2 separate regions of the Homo sapiens genome follow, and region 1 is linked to region 2. The links come from fine-mapping of genetic effects on gene expression. Tissue or cell type: monocytes. Region 2 holds a variant in brackets; the other region holds the start of a gene. All regions are shown on one strand. Distances are from middle to middle.

Region 1 (2,500 bases), 47 kb after region 2:
CTTGGTCTGATTTCCCTGGGGCTGGGTGTCACCCACTGTTTTGCAGGTCATCTCTCTGCCATCGGGAGGCAGCATCGAGCAACCCCGTGCTGGGGCATCAGGCAAGACCAGAGCTCAAATCCAGGCTGCCCACTTCTCACGTGTAAATGTGGATAGCAGCAGTTTGTCTTACACAAGGCTGAAGTGAGGGTAAAAGAGACTGTGTGTGTAAAGTTCCTAGCTCAATGCCTGGCACAGGTTAGAGCAGGTCTTTCTCTCCTCTGCCTGGGCTGGGGTGAGTGGTCTGGGGGGACCCTCTTTGTGTCACCCAGTGGAGCACTGTGCACAGTATGGCCGCCAGCCCCTGCAGTGGGGAGAGCACGGGGTGGGGAGGTCCTCCCACACTCTCCCTCTGACCCTGCTCAGCCTCCTCAGCAACGAGAGGCAAATGGCAAGGCTGAGAACTGGCTTTGGAAAGAAGAGAAGGGCTTATAAGTCAAAGGTGGAGGTTACATAGAGGGAAGGAGGGGACCATGAGGACCCTCAGGGGTCTGAGCACTGGACTTGGAGTCCTCTAGACCAGTGCTCCAATCCCAGCTCTGCCATCCCAGCCCTGCAATCTTAGGCAACTCGCTTTGCCTCAGTTTCTTCATATATAAAATGGGGGCAAGGGGACCTGCCCTGAGGTGCTATGAGTGTGCCAGGTGCTGGATCTAAAGGGGTGCACACAGTAGATGCTAAGTAAGTGCTCCTCAGGGGTGGAGAGGAGGGAAGGGAGGCATCCAGTTACCGTAGTCCAGGCCCTTCTGGGAGATCCTGACCACGACGCCAGGGTTGACGGCCGCTGTCACGGCGGTGCCTATGGCGACCAGCACCATCAGGGACGCCCATCTCGGCGCGTTGCAAGGGCCCCTGGCCATGTTCTCTCTCATCCTCCAGAGCTGCCAAAACCTCAAGGCCTTGAGGTTGAACCAGGGAGCTATAAAAGAGTCGGCTGGGGAAATGCAAGTCAGTAGAATGTGGAAAGGAGGAAGGAACCTGGTGAGGGTGGGAAAGAGGGAGGGCCGCTGTGGTTTTCCATTGTGGTTAGGGCCCCACAGGCAGGGAGAAGTGCAGCCTGGGAGGCTCGCATGTCCATGTATGCATGCGTGTGTGTGCGCGGGCGTGCGTGTGTGTATGTGTGTGTGTAGATTGGTTCCCCTCCCTAGGCACCCCATTCCCCGCTCTGTGTCCCCACCCAAATGCCCCCATCTACAGACTCCCTTGAAGGTGGGTGGCACAGACATAAGGATTCATATTTTTCTTTCTACTTTTGATTTCTTTTGTATTTTTGATAGTAAAACATTTAAGAAAACAGATGCTTTCGTGTTTTCTTGTCCTGAGAGGCAGTAGTGGTAATGATTCAATGCTCACATTTTAGAGTCTAGTATCTTGGCTATGGTTTTAAATCTTAGCCCTGTCATTCTCTAGTGGTCCGACCTCAGGCAAGCCCTTTAACCTCTCTGAACCTCGGTTTTCTCTTCTGCAGAAGAGAAATACATAGTACTGCTCCCTCTCTGGATTGTGGAGAAGATAAAATGAGCTTAAAACCACGTAAAGCATTTAGCATACTGCCCGTGCAAAATAAATATCCAAATGCTAGCTATTAATGTTATCCTGATTTTAAAAGTAACCCATGTTTATTGGCCAAAATTTGAGAAAGAAACAAGAGAATACAAATTACATATAACTCCCTCTTCCGGAGACAAGCCAAAGTGTATTTTAGAGTATTTCTTTTCTCCCTCTTTTGTTGGTAAGCATAGGTAGAGAGTCCATGTTTGTTTGTTAACCAATATGGGATCACCTGGTCAGTTTGGTAAAGTTCCCTTTTTTCGAGAAACAATAGGTAGCAAATGTTCTTCTCCAGCATTAAATATTTCATTGCTTCCTCATCCCACAGCTTTCTTATCCAAGCTTCTGTTTTTGTACATTTTTACTCCTTCCTTTGGCAGATGTAGAACCTGAGGCTTCACCAGGGGAAGCGTTCTTCCCACGGTCACTCAGCAAGCTGCTAGCAGAGCGAGGATCAAAACACAGCCCTCCAGATGCATCCCACACCAGCCCGAATCCCTCAGCGCCTTGGGAGTTGGGGGGATGTAGACACTCCCCACCGCCAACCCAGCTTTCCAGACAGGTCCCTGTCTGCTCAGCCCCTGCCCCTCCCTCTGCAGCAGCCTCAGGCCTCGGGTGGGCAGGAACCCCACTGGGCAGCCTGCTCCGTCTCCATGGTGATGAGAGGAGGGGCGGGGCTGCAGAAGGGGCAGCCAGCTTCTCTCCCGCTGGGTCCTCATCAGCCCCCTAGTGCCCTGTCTCCCCGACTTTGGACTTTATGAAAGTCTAATGAAGTCCGCTGAGCTCGGAGGACGTGAGACCTTCTGAAGTTTTCTTCTTTTTTTCTTAAAAGTTTTTTTCTTCCTCTCTTCGTTTGGTTCTAAAAGAGTCTCCCCTCCTGCTTCCATCTGCAGCAACTAGAATTCTTCTG
Region 2 (2,757 bases):
GGCTACAGCGGTTCTCCTGTCTCATCCTCCTAAGTAGCTGAGATTACAGGCATGCGCCACTACGCCCAGCTAATTTTTGTATTTTTAGTAGAGATGGGGTTTCACCATGTTGACCAAGCTGGTCTTGAACTCCTGACCTCAAATGATCCACCTGCCTCAGCCTCCCAAAGTGCTGGGATTACAGGCATGAGCCACCGTGCTCAGCTGCTGTTTTTTTGTTTGTTTGTTTGTTTTTTAATCCTAAATCTTCAAATCCAGTGTTGCATACTTAGAGTAGATCTCAACTTGTACCAGGCACTTTTCAAGTACTCAGTAAAGGCATGGCTGGTGGCTTCTATTTTAGGCAGTGCAGGTCTGAAGTATAAATATGGTCATATCACCCATATTTGGGCTGTTCCTTCTGCTATGGGCTGCTCTGTGTCACCACCTGCCTCCCAAATTCAGATGTTGAAGCTCTGATCCCCAGTACCTGAGAATGTCACAGTATTGGAGATAGGCCCTTTGAAGAGGTGATTACATTTAAATGAGGCCATTAGGGTGGGCCCTAATCCAATGTGACTAGTGTCTTTATAAAAAGAGATTAGGACATACAGAGAGAAACGGGGTTTCTTTCCTTTCTTTTTTCTTTTTTTTTTTTTTTAGAGATGGAGTCTCGCTCTGTCCCCCAGGCTGGAGTACAGTGGCATGATCTCAGCTCTGTGCAACCTCTGCCTCCAGGGTTCAAACGATTCTTCTGTCTAGCCTCCTGAGTAGTTGAGATTACAGGTACCTGCCACCACACCTGGCTAATTTTTAAATTTTTAATTTATTTTTCATTTTTAGTAGAGACTGATTTTTGCCATGTTGGCCAGGCTGGTCTTGAACTCCTGACCTCAAGTGATCTTCCCGCCTCAGCCTCCCAAAGTGCTGGGATTACAGGGGTGAGCCAACGTGCATGGCCTCAGAAATGGGATTTCTTGAGCACAGAGGAAAGACCACGTGAGGACATTGCCAAAGGGCAGCCATCTGCAAGCCAAAGAGAGTGGCCTCAGAAGAAACCAGGCCTGCCAAAACCTTGACCTTGGCCCTCAGCCTCCAGAACTGTGAGAAAACACATTTCTGCTTAAGCCACCCAGTCTATGCTTGTTATGGCAGCCCTAGCACATGAATACCCCTTCCATCCAAGTGCCTCTGAGGTCAGAGAACTGTTCAAAGTGCCTGAGAGCCAGAGCCCCTGGAAGCAGCCCTTGGCCAATGGCAAGCAGGAGGACGGGGTGACAGCGTGGGGCTGGAGTAACTCAGAGGCGTGTTCTCC[G/A]CTGTCCCTGAGTTCCCCAGCTAGACAGAGCTTCACTTGCCCACCAGGCTGACTTCCTTCCCTTCCCTTCCCTTCCTCACTTCCCCACTCCCCTGTGGGTTTCCTCAGATCGCTTCCAAGATAAAGTATTGCACTGGAATTCTTGCCCTAAAGTCTGCTTCTGTGGGAAGCAAACCAAGGAGACATGATATTACCGCACTTAGCCCTCCCATGACTCCATCAAGGAAGCAGGCCCGTCCCCTTTGGGAGATGAGGAAGTAGAGACTCAGAGACAGAAAGACACTCATCCAAGAGCCAGGACTCAATCCCCAGGCCACCTCCGGGCTTGGACTCCATCTGTCCATCACGTGGCCTTTCTGATAAGCTAGGAACACCTTGGACCTAAGAAGGATGGGGCGAAGGCCAAGGCCAAGAGCTCCAGGGCCTGGGAGCAGAGCCAACTTACAAGAATGACTTGCGCACCTTCCACCTGCCCTGGACCCGGATGGAGGAGTCGGAGATGCTGAGACTCAGGCCCTGGCCAGGGACAGGCCTCAGCGCAGAGTGAAGCAGCTCACAGCTGTGGATGTTCAGGCTGAAGGGAGAGACATGGAAGGAGGTGTCAGCCCTGGGCCTGGACCCAGCCTCACCAGGGACCTTGCGCCTCCCCTCTCCACAGTGGGGACTAGACCAGCAGGATCTGCTCCAGGTAAGCACCTGCTGTGCCCCAGGCATCGATCTTATGACCATGCTAAGCACGTTACTTTCTTCATGCCATATGGGCCACACTGAAGGGGTCAGCAGTGTTCTTGCTCCCTTTCCACAAAGGGGGAAATAGAACCTTGAGGAAGGGATGCAATTGCTCACGGTTTTGCAGTCTGCATCAGAACCCATGAATCTAATGACCCCCGGTGGCATCCTGAGAAGGTCCGTAGACATATCCCTTTGGGTTTGCAGTTCCTGCTAACCCTCCTCTCTCTCAATACATCCAGGTAGGGGGGAAACAGATTCAGGGAAGATGGTGGCAGCCTTAAGATAAGACCCCAAAAAAGTCAGCAAGGTTGTCACAGTGGGAAAAGAACGGTCAAGTTCTATTTTATTTGCCGGGCACATAGTAGGTGCCCAATAGATTTTTGCTGATGGACTGAATAAAAGAAGGCAGGAATGAAGGAAACGCCCAACAGCAGTGAGCAGGGAGGGGTACAATGTGCTACGAGTCTGATTGTCGTTTCTTCACTGCCCATCCCTCAAAAAGCAGTTCACGCTCTTTTAAAGCATCAGCTGCTCAAGTCTAGTAATCTTTTGAAGACTTGGCTCAAATGCCACCTTCTCCTGGAAGCCTTCCCTGACTCCCCCAAGTACAAACTTCAGCTCTAACCGTTGGGCTACTACATTTAAAGTGTAAGGTCTATCTTCTCTTCCAAACTATATCTAGTGGCCAGATTGGATCTTGGATGAGCACTCTGAAGGAGGAAGTAGATCAA

What was found. PIP is the estimated chance that this variant, and not a neighbour inherited with it, causes the effect.
Region 1: BPI starts here. The variant in region 2 is fine-mapped to the expression of BPI in monocytes (Fairfax 2014, PIP 0.92).

The regions. Positions count from the first base shown.
Region 1 is chr20:38,302,623-38,305,122 of GRCh38, reverse strand. It overlaps BPI (bactericidal permeability increasing protein), which reads right to left and starts at 967. Exons shown (of 15, transcript NM_001725.3): 1 at 770-967. The coding sequence starts at 899.
Region 2 is chr20:38,349,922-38,352,678 of GRCh38, reverse strand. LBP (lipopolysaccharide binding protein) reads right to left here. Exons shown (of 15, transcript NM_004139.5): 3 at 1,740-1,868. Among named protein-coding and RNA genes, the nearest start is that of LBP, 4.8 kb to the right of the region's middle. The variant G/A (reference allele first, on the strand shown) is at 1,295.